Homo sapiens: one gene and its partners. The protein of the gene in region 3 interacts with the protein of the main gene of each other region in a pairwise test. Each region holds a gene or a part of one and is shown on either strand. Other genes may lie near its edges.

Region 1 (7,000 bases), on a different chromosome or scaffold from region 3:
GGTAGGAGGATTGCTTCAGCTGGGAGGTCAAGGCTGCAGTGAGCCATGATTTTGACACTCCACTCCAGCGTGGATGACAGAGCAAAACCTTGTCTCAAAATAAAAAAGAAAAAAATGATTTGGAGAGAGGCAAGCAATCCAAGTTTGTCAAGGAGGGTCAGTTTTAGGACTTTTGTTGGAAACACTGGTCGAAAATTTCTTTACTCTGAAGTTCCTAAGCTGGAAGGGCACAGAAGGCTACAGCACTACCCAGAGGGAAGGTTGTGCCTAAGAATGAAGCCAACACAAGGGAAGCAGATCTGAGACCACAAAGATGCCTTTCACATCCTTTGAGCTCCTGGATACAGCCATACCCCTGAAGCCTTTGTTGATTTTTCATTTCTTTTTTTTTTTTTTTTGAGACGGAGTTTTGCTCTGTCACCCAGGCTGGAGTGCAGTGGCACGACCTTGGCTCACTACAACCTCAGCCTCCTGGGTTCAAGCAATTCTCCTGCCTCACCCTCCCAAGCAGCTGGGACTACAGGCGCCTGCCACCACGCCCAGCTATTTTTTTATATTTTTAGTAGAAATGGGGTTTCACCGTGTTAGCCAGGCTGGTCTCGATCTTCTGACCTTGTGATCTGCCCGCCTCGGCCTCCCAAAGTGCTAGGATTACAGGTGTCAGCCACCACATGTGGCCATTGATTTTTCATTTCTTTCCACCTATCAGTTACCTAATTTTGAAGTCTTCAAAAAGTGGCATTCTTACCACTTACACATAAATATATACTGAATGTAAACTGACAAGGATGTGGACTGAGAGAAGCACAGCAGGTGACCAGAAGGGAAGGCAGAGGCATAGCAAGGGGTCGAAGCTGGGGTAGGACAGTGGGCAGCAGCAGCACTCACTGGACCAGATGGGAGGCCAGGACTTCCTTGCAGATGGGCTGCTCGGCCAGCGTCAGCCAGAACTCACAGGCCTCAAGGGCAACGTTCTCATCATGGTCCTGGGTCCTCTGCAGCATGTACTGTGGTAGGGGGGAGAAGCTGAGGCCTGGCCTGGCTGGGGGTGGCTCCCTGACCCCTGCCACCGGCCCCCTGCCTGCCCGCCTGGGCTGGCCTTGACCATGCACACCTGGATGATGCTGTGCATGTGGGGGATGAGCCTGTCAATCCGCACTTCCAGAAGCATCACCAGGGCACGGCACACATTCTTCCGCACCTCGGGGTCATCATCCACAGCCAGGGCAAATAGGTGCTGCAGGGAGGAACAGGGTCAGTTGTAGGGGCCCTCAGTCCTCGCCCTGCCCACCCCCAGCCCAGCGGCCCACCTCGATGAAGGTGTCAATATTGTCCATCAGCGCCTGGGCCCGGTCCATGATGAACTGGTTCACGCAGGCGATGGCGTGGGACCTGGCGGGGAGCAGACACGTGGGTCACCCTGACCCTGCCCACTCCAGGCTCCCTGGAAGCCCCCAGGGAGCTGCACCCACCGGATCTTGGGACTGCAGTGCTTGAAGAACTGCAGGAACTTGGGGATCATGATGTTGAGGGGCCTGTTGAGGGCGTCACTGTCCAGAAGCTCTGATGAGTCTTCACAGATCTTCTGCAGGGCTCCAAAGGCTCCCTGAGTGCAGAGGGGCAGAGAGACAAACGTGGGTGGTGGGTGGTGGTCCCAGCCCCCCAGTACTCGCTCTGGCCATCCATGGCTTCTTGCCTACCTCACAAGTGTTGTAATCCTCCGAGTTAAGCAGGTTGCAGAGCTGGGGCAGCAGCTCGGGCCACATCTGCAGCTCACCCTTGGAAGCGATGGTGGTGATGAGAATGCCTGGGGCGGCCGGGAAAGGACGCTGCCTGAGGCTGGGCAGGGGCTGCCTAGCACCTCCCCCTCCCACTGGACACCCCCAGTGCTGCCTTTCTGTTCCCTAGCCCATGTACGCCCTCTACATCCCCCCTCCTTTTTTTTTTCTTTGTAAGAGATAGAATTAGCTCTGTTGCCCAGGCTGGACTGCTGTGGCACAATCAATAGTCCACAGCAGCCTCAAACTCCTGGCCTCAAGCCATCTTCCTGCCTCAGCCTCCTAAGTAGCTGGGACTGCAGGCACATGCCACCACGCCCAACTAATTTTTAAAATTGTTTGTAGAGATGGGATCTCACTATGTTGCCCAGGCTGGCCTAAAACTCCTGGCCTCAAGCAATCCTCCTGCCTTGGCCTCCAAAAGCACTGAGATTACAGGCGTGAGCCACCGCTCCTGGCCTTGACATAGGTAGAAGGGTACTCCTTGACTCAGTAGGCACCCTGAGCCTTACTGTGAGTCAACTCTGTTCCAGGCCCTGAGGCACAGCACAGAGCAAAACACAAAATCCTCACCCTTGGGAGCTGGAAGCAAGCTATGAAGTAAAGATAAATTAGCAAAAAAAACTGGGAGGGGCCGTGCATGGGTGGCTCATGCCTGTAATCCCAGCACTTTGGGGGACCGAGGTGGGTGGATCACTTGAGGTCAGGAGTTCGAAACCAGCCTGGCCAACATGGTGAAACCCCATCTCTACTAAAAATACAAAAATTAGCTGGGTGTGGTGGGGGGCACCAGTAATCCCAGCTACTTGGGAGGCCGAGGCAGGAGAATCACTTGAACCTGGGAGGCAGAGGTTGCAGTGAGCAGAGATCGCGCCACAGCACTCCAGCCTGGGATGGAGCAAGACTCCATTTCAAAAACAAACAAAACAAAAACAAACAACTGGGAGGGGCCACATGCCAAGGACTAAGGGGGGAAATACAGCAGAAAAGATGGTGAGAAAGGGCTGTAGGTGAAGGTAGCAACTTTAAATTGGGTGGCCAGAGCAGGCCTCGTTGAGGTGACATCTTGATATCTGAGCCAAGGCCTGAAGGAGGTGAAGGAGGCGAGGGAGGAATCATCCAGGTTTCTGGGGAAAGGGCATCTGAGGCAGGGGACTCTATGGTGCAAAGGCCTGGCGTAAGGACAGGCATGATGAGAGAGGGAAAGGAGGTAAGGGCAGGAAGGTGGCAGGGATGCTTGTACTGCCTATTAGATATCCAGGAGTTACATACAGCAGGCATCTGAGGTGCCAGGACAGTGCACATATCTGGTGACAGAGCTGGATATGGGTTCTGTTAAGTGCAGAGATGGTATTTGCTGCCATGAGATGGCAGTGTTTCCCAAGGGTGGAAACTCAACGAGAGAAAGGTGCTCCCTGCAATGGGTAGGTACACAGTGAGGATTGTGGAACTTTAGCCACACCCCCTCATTCTGTGTGCCTCAGTGCTTCCAGCCCTCAGAAGAGATAAAGAAAACCAGCCTCCTAACTAAGGTTATCAGTAGGTTTCTTTTTCTCTCTTTTTTTTTTTTTTTTTTTTTGAGATGGAGTCTCACTCTGTAGTCCAGGCTGGAGTGCAGTGGCACAATCTTGGCTCACTGCAACCTCCACCTCCCGAGTTCAGGTAATTCCCCTGCCTCAGCCTCTGAAGCAGCTGGGATTACAGGTGCCCGCTGCCACACTCAGCAAATTTTTGTATTTTTAGTAGAGATAGAGTTTCACCATGTTGGCCAGGCTGGTCTCGAACTCCTGACCTCAGGTGATCCACCTGCCTCAGCCTCCCAAGGTGCTGGGATTAGAGGCGTGAGCCACTGTGCTCAGCCTGGATCAGTAAGTTTCAATGACTTAGCAAAGAGCCTGGCACATAGAATGAGCTCAGGAAGTCCACATCCTACTACTGGCCTGGGAGGGGGTTTTTGCAGGACTAAAAGTTACTTTTTATTTTTGAGATGGAATCTCAGTCTGTTGCCCAGGATAGAGTACAGTGGCATTATCTTGGCTTACTGCAACCTCTGCCTCCCGGGCTCAAGCAATTCTCCTGCCTCAGCCTCTCGAGTAGCTGGGATTACAGGTGCCCACCAGCTGTAATTCCCAAGTAATTTTTTGTATTTTCAGTAGAAACGGAATTTCACCATGTAGGCCAGGCTAGTCTCCAACTCCTGATCTCAAGTGATCCGCCTGCCTTGGCCTCCCAAAGTGCTAGGACTATAGGCGTGAGTTACCACACCCAGCCAGAAGTCATTTTTTTTGTTTTTATTTTATTTAGTTTTTTTTGAGATGGAGTCTTGCTCTGTTGCCCAGGCTGGAGTGTAGTGCCGCAATCTCGGCTCACTGCAACCTCTGCCTCCTGGGTTCAAGCAATTCTCCTGCCTCAGCCTCCTGAGTAGCTGGGATTATAGATGTTCACCACCACGCCCAGCTAATTTTTTTTTTTTTGAGATGGAGTCTCGTTGTATTGCCAGGCTGGAGTGCAGTGGCGCCATCTCGCCTCACTGTAACCTCCAACTCCTGGGTTCAAGTGATTCTCCTGCCTCAGCCTCCCGAGTAGCTGGGACCACAGGCGAGTGCCACCACGCCCAGCTAATTTTTTCTATTTTTAGTAGAGATGGGGTTTCACCACATTGGCCAGGATGGTCTTGATTTCCTGACCTTGTGATCCGCCCACCTCAGCCTCCCAAAATGCTGGGATTACAGGTGTGAGCCACCATGCCTGGCCAGCTAAGTTTTTTGTATTTTAAGTAGAGACGGGGTTTCACCATGTTGGCCAGGCTGGTATTGAACTCAACCTCTGGTGATTTGCCTACCCTGACCTCCCAAAGTTGCTGGGATTACAGGCGTGAGCCTATTCTTAGTCATCTTTCTGTAACTTCCTCAGGCCACCTTCCAAGAGTCAGAAAAGGCTCTGCTGAAAACCTAATTCCGTTGCACCTGAAACATGAATACCTGCATTATTTTAACTGCTATACCCTTAGCACTCAGCCCAAGGCCGAACACAAAATTCTAGATGTTGCATGACTGTCTCAGAGCCAAGAAGGACTGTTTCAGGAGGGAGTGGTTCCAGAGCGTGGCCCTGCACTGCCTCAGCTGTTTCTGACTTCTGCTGCTTACCCAGACAGGTCCCTTAATAGCTCAGCGCCTCAGCTTCCTCATCTATCAAATGGCAATAGTAATAGTACTACCATAGAGGGTGCCAGAGCATTCCATGAAGCACTACACTTAACATGCTGAGAAGTGAGAGTTCAGTGTGTCCTCAGAGGCCAACCCCCGCTGCCCCTCTCACCAATGGTGGCTCGGATGAGCGAGGAGGCATCGCCAATGTTGTTGAGACACTCCTGTTTGATGAAGTCTGCCACAGGGGGTGGGAAGCTCTGATAGTGTGCCTTCACGTTGTTCTTGAGGATGAGGCCACTGAGAGAGCGCGTTGGCTCATCTGGGAGGAGGAAGGCTGAGGTTCAGGGGCCCAGGGGGAGAAAGCAGGGTCCCGATCGCATGGAAGGGAGCAGAGGGCGTACCTTCTGACTTGAGTCTGGTCAGGACGAAAATCAGGTAGTTGTTGAAGTCAGGAAACTGATTGAGTTGTTTGAGTTTCTGCCAGGCTGTTAAGGGACTTGGAAGACAGAGGCCTTCCCCCAGCCAGGTCCCCTCATTATGTACCTGACACTATCTCTGACCACTGGGACCAGGCTGCCAGCTCCTGGGGGATCCCGCTCCCTAATAAGCCCACAATGACACAGAGCACCTCAGACACGTCAAATTCATATAAGGGGCCGGGCGCGGTGGCTCACGCCTGTAATCCCAGCACTTTTTGGGAGGTCAAGGCGGGTGGATCACAAGGTCAGGAGTTCGAGACTAGCCTGGCCAGCGTGGTGAAACCCCATCTCTACTAAACATACAAAAAAATTATCCGGGCATGATGTGTGCGTGCCTCTATTCCCAACTACTTGGGAGGCTGACGCAGGGGAATCGCTTGAACCCAGCAGGTGAAGGTTGCAGTGAGCCGAGATTGCGCCTCTGCATTCCAGTCTGGGCGACAGAGCAAGACTCCATCTTGAAAAAAAAAAAAATCATACAAGGAGTTGGGTGGAAATGTCTGAGTTTCCCATCCACTCCTGAAGACCCAGCCAGAGCAGGAGAGGGAAGGAGAATCCCACTCCTCTTAAAGTGGCAGCTACTAGTCAGCGATCCCCACTAACAGGCCATGAAGACTTTTTTTTTTTTTTTAAAAGAGGGAATCCAAATTTTGGGGTGAGTCATGCTCATGGTTTAAATATTTATTTATTTATTTTCAGACAGAGTCTCACTCTGTCACTTAGGCTGGAGTGCAGTGGCACGATCTCCGCTCACTGCAACCTCCGCCTCCCAGGTTCAAGCGATTCTCCTGCCTCAGCCTCCCAATTAGCTGAGATTACAGGCTTCTGCCACCACACCTGGCTTAATTTTTGTATTTTTAGTAGAGACAGGGTTTCTCCATGTTGGCCAGGCTGGTCTCAAAACTCCTGACCTCAGGTGATCCGTCCGCCTCGGCCTCCCAAAGTGCTGGGATTGCAGGCGTGAACCACCGCGCCTGGCCTATATATCTTTTCTTTGAGACAGGGTCTGGCTCTGTCGCCCAGGGTGGCTGGAGTACAGTGGCACAATCTCAGCTCACCACAACCTCTACCTCCTGGGCTCTAGCCATCCTCCCACCTCATCCTCCCAAGTAGCTGGGACTACATGTGCATGCCACCACACCTAGCTATTTTTTGTATTTTTTGTAGAGATGGGGTCTCCCTATGTTGCCCAGGCTGGTCTCAAACTCCTGGGCCCAAGCGATCTACCTGCTTCGGCCTACCAAAGTGCTCCGATTACAGGCATGAGCCACCCCGTTGGGCCAGGGCCTACTTTAATAGTTAATGGAGTAGATGCTAGCGTTCGATGAACATTAGGAATTTTCATCATTTTCTATAACAATCCCCGCAGCTCTGGAAATGGGACCCAGGAATTGTAATCCTTCTCTGTCCAGGGCAGATCCTCCGCACAGCAGAAAAAATCTGGGGACTAGGGGAGTCAGTCCCTCTCTTTCTCTCTCTGGCCTTTGGAAACTGCACGCATCTACCCGGCTCCCCCAGCCCCGGAAGGAAGGAAGGATACATCCTGCACGATGCGCTGAGTGGCTGTGTTGGGCGACTGTGAGTCTTTGAGCAG
Region 2 (7,080 bases), on a different chromosome or scaffold from region 3:
AAAAATGAAAAAAATGAAGCAGGATGGGGAGCAGGAGGTGTGAAACTGAGATAGAGGCAGTGGGGTTGGACAAGAGACTTTGCAATTTTAAACAGGGTGGCCAGAGACAGCCTCACTGAGGATATTTGAACAAAGACCTGAAGGAGGTGACAAAGTGACCCAAACAGATAATGGGGGGAAAAGTGCCCCAGAAAAAAAATACGAGAGCCCTAAGGCAGAACTATGTTCCAGGAAATAGCAAGGAATGTGGGAGCACTTACTCTTTTCATACTTCCGTAATTGCAACACCCAGTTACTCTAAAATCTTCCATTGGCTTCTCAGTGCTTTGAGGGCAGAAATCAAATTTTATTCATCTTTGTATCCCTAACCCTTAGTTGTTGAGTCATGAAATTGTTTAAGCTACAGTATTATTACATTATGAGAATACAGATATGCACTATCTCTCCCCCTACATCCCTCGCATAAAGCAGCTCCTGTGTGTTGTATGGCGATAAGATTGCTGCCTACCCAATTAGAAATCCCAACGATCCTAGACTCTTCCTCCTTCTACACCCTCGACATCCAGTCAGTAACTAAATCCTGTCAATTCTTGTTTACATCATTATAGTGGCCCCCAATTGGTCTATTTTGCTGCAGCCTTTCCTCCCAGATATTTCAAATGAAAAAGATAATTTGCATTCATTTCTGGATATATTAGGTAATTTTAAACTCTTGACCTCATTTTATATGTAGCCTACATGTTTACAGAATTTAAGCCAATCATTACATGTTTTCACTGAAATTTGACCCTGGCAGTTTTTATAATTTGAGGACTACTAGAATCATGAAGTTCAATGGTTAGTACTGAGGTCCAACAATGGATCTGCACATGCCTATCACCCTCACCTTCATGTTCCTAGAAATTCAAACTAAACAGCTTGCATATTCAATTTTCCTTTGTAATTTCAATTGGACATGGTATTCTTCACTTTCCATTGTGAAGTCGGCTGCCCAGTGTCAACAGCTGCTAGGTCTCACCACCTCACAAGTAAGAGATGGCTTTCTATTTCAAACTATGCAATATTAGTTAATATACAGAATGGGTATACATAGGTGCTTACTAATTGGCTACAGTATGGAAGGGTGTGTTCTCCAGTAATAAAGAAAATCTTATCATTTGTCTAATTCACTTACAGAATTACTCTCTCAGTACATCTTAAGCACTCTGTAGTAGAGACAGGATTTGGATTTTCTTTTTTAAATCCCAGATTTCAGTGGTATCAGCTTGTGACCTGAGTAATCTGTTTAACCTGAGCTTCAGTTTTCCTCATTTCGTAAAATGAGAATAATTATATTCTCACTGGGTTATTGCAAGAGCAAATGAAATCATGTGAAAGTGCAAAACAAATGCTAGTAGTTGTTACACATCGCAAAATGGCTCAGAGCACGGGTTTTTGTCAGAGCTTTTTGAAGCTACAGGCGATTCAAAGTCAGTACCTACACATTTAAATTATCTTAATAGATAAAAACAAATAACTATTGCGGGGAGACGATAAGAGTTTAGATCTTCCAAGTACCAAGCGTATATTCTTGCCAGAAATCGTTGTGTGTCGGGGGCGGATGGGGGGTGGGGGAGGCCGGGGGTATTCTACTCATACGTGGTTTCATACTCAGTGAAATCTCAAACAATAACTTGCTTTAAACAGAGAATAATTAATGGCGAGTTTGCAAACAATAGCATTTTGGCAGACAGTTCTTAAGTTCAGTAAAATGTGCAAAAACCTAAGCAAGGTTTTATGTGTATATAAATCTTGTCTTTTATTTTTTAAGACAACCCTGAAGTTTTCTGTGGAAACCAGAAAGGGCAAGAAATTGGTCTTAGGTTGCTCAAGGAAACTGGTACTCACTTGTACCCTGCGGCTATACATTATATACAGGAAAAGGAGGAGGGATCCAAGGAGGGCGTGGAGCTCCTGTGCGTGGTCCATTAATTCACATTTTGCTCTCTTCGGTTCACATCCTGCGCGGACTCCACCCAAGGCAACCGAGCGAGGGGGTGGGTGGGACTCACAGCCTACCAAATAACAGTCCCAGAAACCGAAACGAAATCGAGGTGGAATTCTGAAAACACGGCTCACCAGAAAGAGGGGTGGAGAAGGAGCGCGAGAGGAGACCCTTCTTTTGGCAGAAGAGGTATCCCTGGCCCTCGTTGCTTCCTGGGCTCCCCCCCATCCCCTCAATCGCAAACAGTTCCCTCCTTTCCTACGCATGGAAGAAGGAAGACACACACAGAGCAAGGCCACTCATCCTTGGAACGTGGGCGGAGAACACACAAGTATTCCTCAGAGAATTTCAAAAGGAAATCGAGGAAAAGCAACCTGGGAGAGGAGGAGGAAAGGAAACTGACTGCCAAGTGGGGGACCCGCGAGACGGTGGAAAGGAACTAAGCAGATAGCCTGCTGGGGCCTGCGCCCCAGGAAAGAAGGGCTACCTGTTGAATGGAACTGTCCCTGCGGAGGCGGAGAGGGAAGAAGGCGAGTCACCCCAGAGAGCGGAGCCGTTGTCCCTAGAGCAGCCTCGCTGGGGCTGGTGGCGAGGGATCTCAGCCCCAGTGCCTGCGGAGCCCCACCCTGAGAAGCCTTGGCTGCAGATACGGTGATGAGAGACACCGACAGAAACAAGGGAGAGGCGCACGACTGGAGCCGGTCTGGCCTGCTCCCGCGGTTAGTCACTCACATCTGATACTCGTCTATCGCCTCCACCAGCTGGCCCCAAGAGTCGAAGTCGGCGCCTCTCCTAAAACTGGCGCCCCAGCGCTGCAGCAGACTCCGGGTCACCTCCGACATGGCCGGTCCCCACCCCGTCCCCTCCCGCCCCTACCCCAGCAAGGCCGGGTTCTAGGGCGCCATCCTCCCCCGGCCTGGCCCCGACATTAACAGGGCCAGGAGGAACCGCTACGGCCACCACCGCCACCCGCCGAGGAGCCGCCCAAGCCCATTTGCCGCCACAGCCAAACTTTGCGGCTCCAAAGCGACCGCCCCGCCGAGACCCCGCCCCCGAGGCCCCGCCCCGGGTTAGGTTGAGGCCGCCCCACTGCGCCGAGGGCCGCCATCGCTATTGCGGCATTCTCCCTCGGCTCCGGAGGTAGGGGCAACTCTTCTCTTCCTGTCTGGGAAAAAGACCATAGCTCAAAAGGAAGGCCGAGGGAGAAGTTAGAAAGGGATGATGAACGAAGCGTTTTGAGGGGACTGCAACGCCGCGGCAATACCCGCCCCTGAGCTGCGCGCACTACCGCCTCGGTAGCTATCATGGCCGCCGGGTCACGTGACTCCGGCTTGGCGCCGTCCTGGTTTTCCGTCACCCTGGTTCTGTAGTCTCGGTTCTCCGACTCCCTCTTTTTCTCGCTTGTGGACTCCGATATATTGCCCTTCTTCCCTTAGAAGAACTGCTGAACCGACTCTGAGAAATTTGGTAAGTATGTCAGAGGATGGGTGTTTCTCAGTAATATCCCCCGCTACTTCCCCGGAGTCTCAAGCAATAGGATCACCCCCTTTTACATTAGTCTCCATAGACCCCTGGACAGTGGACCAAAAGTCTCCTTCTAGTGCCTTGAAACAAACGACAGAAAGAAAATCCATATTGGTCACCACAAATCAGTGGCATTAACAGCTAGATCCGCTGAATCCCCTTGCCCCGCATCTCCATTGGTCATTGGAGAGCTTATAATACAAGCTAAACTGGGGTTCGTTCGGCCGTTGTCTGGCCACCTCTCCCGGGTTGACAGTATCGGCTTTCCACAAAAATGCCTGTTTGGAAAGAGGGGAACTCAAGTGTTGGCGCGTGCGCACGGTCGCCGCCCGCTGCCTCGAACGGGACTGGGCACGGGAGGAAGAGGCTGGGTGGTAAACAGGAAGTGGGCGCTCAGAGCTCGGGGGCGGCGCTCAGGTAGGTTCCTCTGGGGACTCGGGGCTTCCGGGGTGGGGGTCCCTTGTTAGGAGCGGGAGTCCTCTTGTGGAAGTGTGTTAGCTTACAGCTTCGATCCGAATGTTGTATTGGTGGCTCTAAAGGCACCCTTGTCCCTGCGGGTGGGTGTGTCGTTCTTCTATCCCACCCTAGGAACTCCCGAAAACTGAAGACCGCCGGGTCGCAGAAGGGGAGAAGATGGGGCAGGGGCAGAAACCCTCTTCTTTCCTGAAGTAAAGATTCGCAAAACTTCAGACATTTTCATCCAGGAAGTAGGAGGCCGCATTAAAAGAAGTATTTGTGGAAGATTTCGCAGCCTCAAGTGCTGAGTGTGATATTATTTGTAGGCACATAGATGCTGTATTAGGCTATCGGAATTTATATGGAAGATGTGTAGAAGATGATATTTTCTGAAATAACTCGTTAAATGTTTTGAGTCCTAAATAAACCTGCTCAGTTTTTCGTTGGGTACACACTGTATTCTCTATTCATTAAGTATGTGGTGCTCCTCAAAACCAGCTTTGTCATGAATAAATAGCATAAAGGAAGCACTTAATGTAGGCATTTCATACACTGTACAGCCACCATTATTTTCTAATACTAGGAAAAGTCGATTGTCAGAATTTTTTAGTGCCTTCAAATTAAATGAACCTTATCAGAATTTTTTCTCAGTTACTTCCTGGAATCTAATTGCCATGTTTAGGTCTTCGCCTGGGCTTTCTCCTTATTATCTGCTGCACTACCTACCCAAGGACATTTAGACAAGACATGCTGCTTTTTTTTTTTTTTTTTTTTGAGACGGAGTCTCCCTCTGTCGCCCAGGCTGGAGTGCAGTGGTGCCATCTCGGCTCACTGCAAGCTCCGCCTCCTGGGTTCTCCTGCCTCAGCCTCCCAAGTAGCTGGGACTACAGGCGACCGCCACCATGCCCGGCTAATTTTTTTTTTGTACTTTTAGTAGAGTCACCGTGTTAGCCAGGATGGTCTCGATCTCCTGACCTTGTGATCTGCCCGCCTCGGCCTCCCAAAGTGCTGGGATTACAGGCGTGAGCCACCGCGCGTTTTTTTTTTTTTAAGTAGAAGGCATGGAACTTAATTTTTTTTTTAAGTTGGCATCTCACTTAGGTGGTGTTCCAAGTTTTTGTTTTTTGTTTTTTTTTTCCTTTTTCCTTTTTTGAGATAGGATCTTGCCCTGTCGCCCAGGCTGGAGTGCCATGGGGAGATCAGGGCTCACTGCAGCCTACGTCTCCTGGACTCAGGGGATCCTCCCTCCTCAGTCTTCCCAGTAGCTAGAACCACAGGCGTGGCTACCATCCCCGGCTGATTTTTGTAGAGACCGGGTCTCACCATGTTGCCCAAGCTAGTCTCAAATTCCTGAGCTCAAGCGATCCACCCACCTCGGCCTTCCAAACTGCTGAGATTACAGGCATGAGCCACCATGCCCAGCCCAATGTTTTCATTTTATAATAGAATTTATTGATCAAGTATTGTATTACATTTTTATTTTAAAAATATTCTTTAGGTATTTTTTGGAAAGTACATTTTATTGTAGAACACATGCTATAACCAATCCACTGTTGTCAGCAATATGTCGGAAATACAGCAGTTAACTTAAAACGTATTACAAGTAGCCTTAGCGATATAATCAGGGTTACCATTTGAACCCGTTTTGGAAATTACGTTCATCTGGTCCTGTGCCCTTTTTACTTGCAGTTGTCCAACCAAAATCTAGTACTTTGCTATTCAAAAGTGTCTGGGGACCAGCAGCATCAGCATCTCAGGTCCTGCCCCAGGCTATTGAATTAGAGCCTGCATTGGACAAAACCACCCACCCCCAGGTGATTTTTATGTATATTACAGTTTAAACATTACTGCTCCTATATATGTATGTTAACATTGAAGTTATTGTGGGCAGATTTTCAAATGCTCTTCTGCTTTTTTTTATAGGCCTGATCTGAACATAGACCACCATAAATAGACAAAACATAACCTGAGGCCGGGCGCGGTGGCTCACGCCTGTAATCCCAACACTTTGGGAGGCCAAGGCGGGTGGATCACTTGAGGTCAAGAGTTTGAGACCAGCCTGGCCAACATGGTGAAACCCCGTCTCTACTAAAAAAATAACAAAATTTAGCCAGGCTAATTTTCGAATTAAATTTTTATACTATTGAAATAAATTGTTATGCTATTTACCTTGTTTATTAAATATTTTATATTTAATTTTTGTATATTTTTTACTTTTTTGTCTATAGAAAACATCTGGAGAAAATGACCCATTGGTTTCATAGGAACCCATTAAAAGCCACAGCTCCTGTGTCTTTTAATTACTATGGTGTAGTCACTGGCCCTTCTGCTTCAAAAATATGCAAGTAAGTTTATTGATTGAACCACTCTTAGATGCAAGGTACTTTTTTTGGTTCCATGGCAATACAGAAATATGTAACACACTGTTTCTAAGTTTGTTATAAATTTATAAATGACATTTAAGAGTTAAATCATAGATTATTTAAATTTGGCAGTCTTCTACGCCTGGATCCTTAATTTTAGATCAGTAAATGAGTCCCAGAGAGGCTAAAGCAATCACAGTAAAACAGTTAATCTGTATATTACAACAGTACAAGGGACTCTACAAAGTAGTGTATGGACATTTTTATTTTTTATTTTTATTTTTATTTTTATTTTTTGAGATGGAGTTTCACTCTTGTCGCCCAGGCTGGAGTGCAATGGCTTGATCTCGGCTTACTGCAACCTCCGCCTCCTGGGTTCAAGCAATTCTTTTGCCTCAGCCTCCCGAGTAGCTGGGATTACAGGCACCTGCCACCACGCCCTGGTCATTTTTGTATTTTTAGTAGAGACGGGTTTTCACCATGTTGGCCAGGCAGGTCTCAAACTCCTGACCTCAAGTGATCCACCTACCTTGGCCTCCCAAAGTGCTGGGATTACAGGCGTGAGCCACCATGCCCAGCTCTATAGGGACATTTTAAATTGGCCACATATTAAACTTCTTGACTTCAGAATAAGGAGAGATCCCTGTGACCTGAAATGGCCTTCAAAGTGTTCACACAGGAAAAAGTACTTGAGATAGGCCTTGAATGAATTGTATGGCTTAGATCAGGGGTTGGCGAACTGTGTCATATGGA
Region 3 (7,000 bases):
ATGTAGGTAGCTTCAATAGTTTAGAAAATTCATTTGCATTATTCAATCAAGAAGGACAAATAAAATGACATACTTTTATTTTTATCTTTTTAAATGGCAAACACACAGAACTGGCAGTCAACCGAGGGCAGAAGATAAGGGTAACTCCACTAAAAGACACCATAAACCAGGAAAGTGGAAAGAGTCAGTGTGAGTGACACAGGTCAGACCTACCAGGTGCTACCTGATATTTATTTAAATGTCAAAAGAATCAGAAGAGGAGATTGAATGCTCCTCACTACCAGTGTGCAACTGAGGGGCGGGGCTGACTGCGCTGTGAATACCAATTCTGTATTTCCCGACCAGGAAGCCGAGCACCTGCACATGCGTTAGGCATGTAGTTTCCTTGTTTCAGTAGCATATAAAATAGCCCAAACTCTCAAAAGGATTAAGAAGTCTGCAAGATTCCCAGGATAAAGCTGCACAATTACAGTTTATGCAACTTTCATCCAACAACTGCATAACTGAGGGGAGGAAGCACTGCTCTCCTGCTCTCCTGCCAACGTCTCACCATCCAGTCAGAAAACCTCAGAAATGGCTTTGTATCGATTGACATTTTCCCCTCTGCAGATATAGCCTCTATCTGCAGAGACCTTTTGCATTAAAAAAAAATACAAAAAACTACAAACCAAGCTGGAGTTGAGCCTTTAAATAAGTATGATAAAACTGACATTTAAAATTATACAATAAATTAGCTCAAGTTAGAATTATAAACTCAGGACCAGGGAAAGGAATAATTATATATCAGAACTAAAACGATATAACCAACCAGGTGCAGTGGCTCACACCTGTAGTCCCAGCACGCTGGGAGGCTAAGGCAGGACGATCACTTGAGCCCAGAAGGTCAAGTCTGCAGTGAGCTGAGACTGTTCCTCTGTGCTCCAGCCTGGGCAACAGAGTGAGATCCTGTCTCAAAATAAAAATAAAAATAATGATACAGCTGATATTTAGGCAGTAGCAAATTTTACAACACTATTTGCTACTGTAATCTTAGTAGAGTAAAATTTTAATCTTCACTCTTCCCAAGCTATGTACAATTGCATCTTCCTGTTTGATTTCCTGGACGATACATGAGTTGCAATATGAATCATCCTCATCAACTAAGTGAATGAGTTACAGTCGTTATCAGCATACCCACTGGCGAAAATCTTTATTATCTACAATGCTGAAAAAGCAAAAGTTCCATGAAATGGGTCATTTCTAATAAATCATAAAACAGAACCTACCTTAGAACTTAATAGTCACTTACAAATGTATCCACATTTTACAAAAGAGGAAACTGAGTCTGAAGGGAAATGGGTAGGTGACTTGTCTGAGCGAGTAATGGCCAGAGTGAGATTTTCTGTGATCTAAGATAGTCCACCCTAGAGGAAACTTTAAAATAAGTGTGCACCGTGATTGGAAAGCTAGCTGATAAACCATTCTTTTCCTCACTCCCTGGACTTTTGCTTCCTTCTCCCTTTCCTACGTAGGCCCAGTCTGCATGTCCTTCCCGTCTCCACTCCAGCTCTTCTCTGCAATCTGACAATAGATCCGAGAATCCTTCTGTTCTGCATACTGACTCCCTCTTCTCCCCAGGCAAGGCTAATAGATACAGAACCCTCGCTGGAAGACAGAAAACGAAGGCACGAGGCACTCAGCGGTCTCACAGGGTCACCCAGCAAAGGAGTGGCTTAACTAGAAATAGAAAGCAGATGCTCCCGGCATCCATTAGATTAAAGCAGATTACAGAGGCTTATCCCAGCCTCAGCAAATGCTTCAGATGAAATCATGCATGCAGTCTGGCATCAAAGGAAAATTAGAAGATTCTACCTGTAAAAGTGAAAGCGTAAAAGGCTGCCACATCATCCGAAAGTTACAGGTCACTGAGTTTTATTAATTTGCTCTGCAACAGCACCTTCTGTGATCTCTAGTTTTTCTCTACAGTCTAATGAAAGAAGAAATGCTATTTCAGGGACTGGGTATGAAGTGAGCATGTACCCTCTCTTCAAAAGGACTGAGGGCCAAGGAAGCCTGTATTCTGTTCCATAGCACGCTGGGGTGGAGAAGAACCCCAGTCAGAAGGGATACGGGCGACAGCCAAGAAAGTTCCATGTGAGAGAAAGAACGGAGGAAGCGGAAGAGCCACGGCTGCTGGAGAGGGAAGGGAGGCCCAGCCTCTCCCTGCACACAATCCCCAATCCACTCAGCTCTGCCACGGCCTCTCACCTCAACCAAACCCAGCCCTCACTTTTGGGCTCCTGGCCCTAAATGAAAAGCATCATCAATACTTCAGAGTAGTGGGGATTCCAGCTCCCACTGCTATCCAGGCTGGCTGTACAAGTTAAGAGCTTCCCAGCAATGCCCTGATACGCATGACATTCCTAGAAGACCAAAGCAGAGATGTGCTGTTCCTGGCATATCAAGGTAGAAACACATCCAACCTCCCAGGAAAGAACCATCAACAGAGACTAGATATTACAGCATCAGCAGCATCATCACGCTTCTTATGTAAACTATGTAATAAGTAGGTTTCTAATTCATGATACTGTTCTACAGACAAACTGGGGAGTTGGTTCTATTAGGTTAAATTGCTTCTTTCCAATGCAAGATCGCCACCTAGTGGCTGAAGACAACAACCGCATGCACAAATGATTTCACATACTGGGAAGGGGCTAGGGAGGTGGTGATGAAGGAATAGGAATTCTCACCCAGGTCTCAAACGGCTTTTTACCCGACTTGGCAATGACTATGGAATGCCTACGCTGTGAAATGGAGAAATTACGTGGAATAAAGGGTCAACCAGGGAGTGTGCTTTATCACACTGGAGGTATCAATATAGAGCATAATTCTCTAACCTGGCGTATTAAAAGCTATTTAACACCAACTTTCAGCTGTGAAAAAACACCATGCAGCTAAAAATGTTGGGCAAGAAATTAAAATTATTTTCTGACCTAGCTACATAAAGTCCCGTTTTCCTCTAAATATAAGCTGATTCCATTTTTTAGCTCAGCCACAGGACTTGTTTACAGTCTAAAACCTAATCTGGGTCCCATCTCAGATCTCCTAGATCTGAATTCTAACAAGATCCTCAGGCACACCACAGTCAATGCGAAGACTCCAGCGCTGTTTCACAGCAATGCAGTCGGAGCTGTCCATAAAGCATGAAGTCGCTATTGGCCCAGAGCTAAAATGCTTCAAGCAACTCAGGACAAACACGTAGATTTCAATAACAAGTAAAGAAATGCTTAATCTTACCTTTTGTGAATTTCATATAGTGAACACGGTTTTTGGAGATTTTGGACTTTTCCTCAAGGCTAAAAGATTTCTTTTCCTTCTTGTCCGAGGAATCTTTAAAAAAGATGAAAAAAATACATTAAAGTCTTTCTAATCCAATCTCATTTATTCTCCTAACAGTGGATAGTCTTGAAAGAAAATTTTAGGAGCCCTATCATTAATGATTGAACTCTTTCATTCATTTGCTCTGCAACAGCACCCTTCTGCTGGATCTCTGTTTTCTTTCTAGGAGTCAAATGATTAGAAATATTTCCTTAATTTGCATACTATGGATCAGGCCAGGCTGCCCTCCAGAAATTTAGAAAATCCTTGAGGAAGAAATGGAAACTTGTGTTCACACAAAACCTAGACACAAATGTTCACATTAGCCTTATTCATCATAGCAAAATACCAAAAATCACCCCCAAGTCCTTCAACGTGTGAATGCATGAACAGCTGAGCAACCCCTGGGCCATCCTTACAGTGGAATACCACTCCACAGTAAAGAGCGGCGGCCGCTGCCACCGCAATGGCCAAAACAAACTCCAGGGCATTGTGCTTAGTCAGAGGTCCATCTACAAACATAACATATGACTCCATCTACAGAACATTCTCGACATGACAAAACTACAGAGAGAGAGGACAGATGAATGGTTTCGAGGGGACAAGGATGAAGGTACAGTGGGTACAAATACAAAGATGAGGCATGAGGTTGCTGTGCCGTGGTGGCCAATCCTGTATCTTCACCATTGTGGTTGCTGCATGAATCTGCACTTGTGATAAAATTGCACAGAACCATCCGCCCATGTACAAATGAATGGAGACCAAAAAAAGATGATGAAAACTGGCTAAGGTTTGTGGTGCAGTTGACAGTAACACCAAATGTCAACTTCCCGGTTGCGAAAAGCCACAGCAATGTAATGTCTCTCCACCCTGGGAGAACAGGGGGAAAGACGTTCAGGACTCTCTGAATTATTTTGCGAATTCCTACAAGCCTGTAATTATTTCAAAATAAAAAGTTCCTTTAAAAAGTAAATAAAGGTAAGACAGGTTAAATGATCACCTAAATACAGATCAGAGATGACGATTAGGTGACGCATGGAGGAGCAGCAATAGCTCCAAGCCACCTTTTCAGGGTTTCGGGAAGGACAACTGGAAGGGCAAAAGGAGCAGGAACACACCATTGAGGAAGACATCCGAGTGGTAACGCCTTTGACGGAAGGGAAAATGTGAGCCAGAAAGTAGGTCCTTGCCTGAAAGGTTGATCAGAGCAGGTTGATCTGGGGTTAGAGTCAATTATAAATTAGCTAGCCACCTGCATTCTCTCACCTGTATCTGCTTGTCAAGTTCAGACAGAAGAGTGCCACAGAAACGATCATAGGCAGAAGAGAGACTAAATTTTCCTACAGTTTTAAGAACATTCAGATATGAGGTTAGAGAAACTGGAAAAAAAGCAGCCGGGCGCGGTGGCTCATGCCTGTAATCCCAGCACTTTGGTAGGCCGCAGCAGGCAGATCATGAGGTCAGGAGATCGACACCATCCTGGCTAACATGGTGAAACCCCGTCTCTACTAAAAATACAAAAAAAAAAATTAGCCGGGCGTGGTGGCGGGCACCTGTAGTCCCAGCTACTCAGGAGGCTGAGGCAGGAGAATGGCGTGAACCTGGGAGGCAGAGCTTGCAGCGAGCCGAAATCACGCCACTGCACTCCAGCCTGGGTGACAGAGCGAGACTCCATCTCAAAAAAAAAAAAAAAAAAAATCCAACAAACCAACCTTCTTCAGAGGATATAAGAGAAATTGGAAAAAAAGAAACTCTCACCCTGACAGTGGAGCGAAACAAGCACGTGTCCATTCAACAACATGTGACTGCACTGCAACCCCTCCCAGGAGTCACTTATTTCAAAGGTATAGTTCCCTATGGGAACTATACAGCAGGCTCGAAAGAACGTGAAGGCAGATGTTCCGCACTTGAGGCAAAGCCCAGCACGGGCTCATTATTTCCACAAGCTGAAACATTCTCTTCTGCAGCCACTTCCCAGGGACACCTTGGATTTTTTGCAAAGACATCCTACCAGTAAATTCTTCTCTTTTGCACTTCATATGGCACATAACATTTTCAATGCTGATGTTCCAATCACAAATCACAGAGGAAGTTATCAGCTTAAAGCGGCTCCTACCGACTGCAAGTGTATGAGGGACGAGGCGCTGGACTGGAGGCTTTCCATGAATTCTTGGATTTCCTTCCCACAGCCACTCCATAAGAGAGCTGCTGTGATGCCTGAACTCACTACAGAGGACGACACTGATAAGGCACACCCAGGAAGCCCCCGCGATGGGACCGAAGCCCAGGCAGACATGACGCAGAGGCCACATCCTGAAGCACCACGCCGTGCCCTCACAGAGCAGCTCTCTCAGCCTTGAGAGGGCAGAAGAATCACCTGGTGAGCGTCTCTACCTTCTCAGCATGCAGGTATCAAGAAGGATGCGTGAGCACCGCCAGGCCTTGAGGAATCACTTTCTATCTATTTGTTCACGTGCACTCATGCCTGAAACTGCTCGGAGTCTGACTTATGCACCAATCTGGCCGTCCTTTCCCGGGTATCCCCTCCCACTTTACAAAGGAAAGGCACAACTTTCCTCTTACCGGGATCAATGAGGGACAAGGGAAAATACTGTTGTCAAAGCAGCAATCAAAGCAGCTGGCCCGGCCCTCACACCCCTACGCTAACCCAGCTCATCAGGAGGTGCACTGCCAAAGAGATGTGTTTAATAAGCATTCATTAAAATGTATAACAGATCTGCTAATTTTATTCACTGTGATCTACTAATCATGAGGGTAGGTGCAGTGGCTAAAGCCTGTAACCCCAGCACCTTGAGAGGCTGAGGTGGGTGGATCACAAGGTCAGGAGTTGGAGACCAGCCTGACCAACATGGTGAAACCCCGTCTCTATTAAAAATACAAAAATTAGCCAGGCGTGGTGGTGTGCACCTGTAATCCCAGCTACTCAGGAGGCTGAGGCAGGAGAATCGCTTGAACCCGGGAGGCGGAGGTTGCGGTAAGCCAAGATTGTGCCACTGCACTCCAGCCTGGGCCACAGAGCAAGACTCCATCTCAAAAAAAAAAAAAAAAAAAAGAGAGAGAGAAAATAAAACCCTAGATTCTTTATGAAATCCTTCAGAGTAAAGTAAATTTTCTGGCCTTAATCGTGGTTTATGGCTCTAGATTTGCCAGCCACACTATCAGGAGGCTTACAGTGCTGAGTATCTCTGCTTGCTTTTCTTAGATGTTATAATGCATTTAGTCCTCACAACAACCTTCCAAAGATGATACTACTGCTTCCATTTAACCAAAGAGGAAATCGAGGTACAGCCATGTTCAGCAATTTACCGAATGTCATACAAATGAAAAGTCAGACCAGGATTAAAATCCAGGCAGTCTAACTCTGGTGTTTGTCTCTAAACCACTGCATTCTATTTAATCTCCAAGTCTTATATGTTCATGCTTACATTCTTACATTCTTTTTTTTTTTGGAGATGGAGTTTCACTCTTGTTGCCCAGGCTGGAGTGCAATGGCGTGATCTCGCCTCACCACAAACTCCGCCTCCCAGGTTCAAGCGATTCTCCTGCCTCAGCCTCCAAGTAGCTGGGATTACAGGCATACGCCACCACGCCCAGCTAATTTTGTATTTTTAGGAGAGACAGG

Evidence for each region. The genes of interacting proteins can lie anywhere in the genome.
Region 1: the proteins of PINX1 (region 3) and TNPO2 interact in binary tests that used the Homo sapiens proteins (3 or more experiments, as listed by UniProt).
Region 2: the proteins of PINX1 (region 3) and AIDA interact in binary tests that used the Homo sapiens proteins (3 or more experiments, as listed by UniProt).

What each region holds. Positions count from the first base shown.
Region 1 is NC_000019.10:12,713,933-12,720,932, forward strand, and holds part of TNPO2 (transportin-2), read right to left. Parts: coding exon 6,947-7,000; intron 5,405-6,946; coding exon 5,329-5,404; intron 5,247-5,328; coding exon 5,097-5,246; intron 1,808-5,096; coding exon 1,701-1,807; intron 1,607-1,700; coding exon 1,473-1,606; intron 1,393-1,472; coding exon 1,311-1,392; intron 1,238-1,310; coding exon 1,115-1,237; intron 1,008-1,114; coding exon 889-1,007; intron 1-888. UniProt on the Homo sapiens protein: Probably functions in nuclear protein import as nuclear transport receptor. Serves as receptor for nuclear localization signals (NLS) in cargo substrates.
Region 2 is NC_000001.11:222,709,492-222,716,571, forward strand, and holds the start of AIDA (axin interactor, dorsalization-associated protein), read right to left. Parts: upstream 3,001-7,080; 5' UTR 2,827-3,000; coding exon 2,717-2,826; intron 1-2,716. Other genes in the region: BRO1 domain-containing protein BROX, read left to right, coding at 4,142-4,176, 6,193-6,309. UniProt on the Homo sapiens protein: Acts as a ventralizing factor during embryogenesis. Inhibits axin-mediated JNK activation by binding axin and disrupting axin homodimerization. This in turn antagonizes a Wnt/beta-catenin-independent dorsalization pathway activated by AXIN/JNK-signaling.
Region 3 is NC_000008.11:10,822,876-10,829,875, forward strand, and holds part of PINX1 (PIN2/TERF1-interacting telomerase inhibitor 1), read right to left. Parts: intron 3,370-7,000; coding exon 3,277-3,369; intron 2,569-3,276; exon of another isoform or gene 2,498-2,568; intron 1-2,497. UniProt on the Homo sapiens protein: Microtubule-binding protein essential for faithful chromosome segregation. Mediates TRF1 and TERT accumulation in nucleolus and enhances TRF1 binding to telomeres. Inhibits telomerase activity. May inhibit cell proliferation and act as tumor suppressor.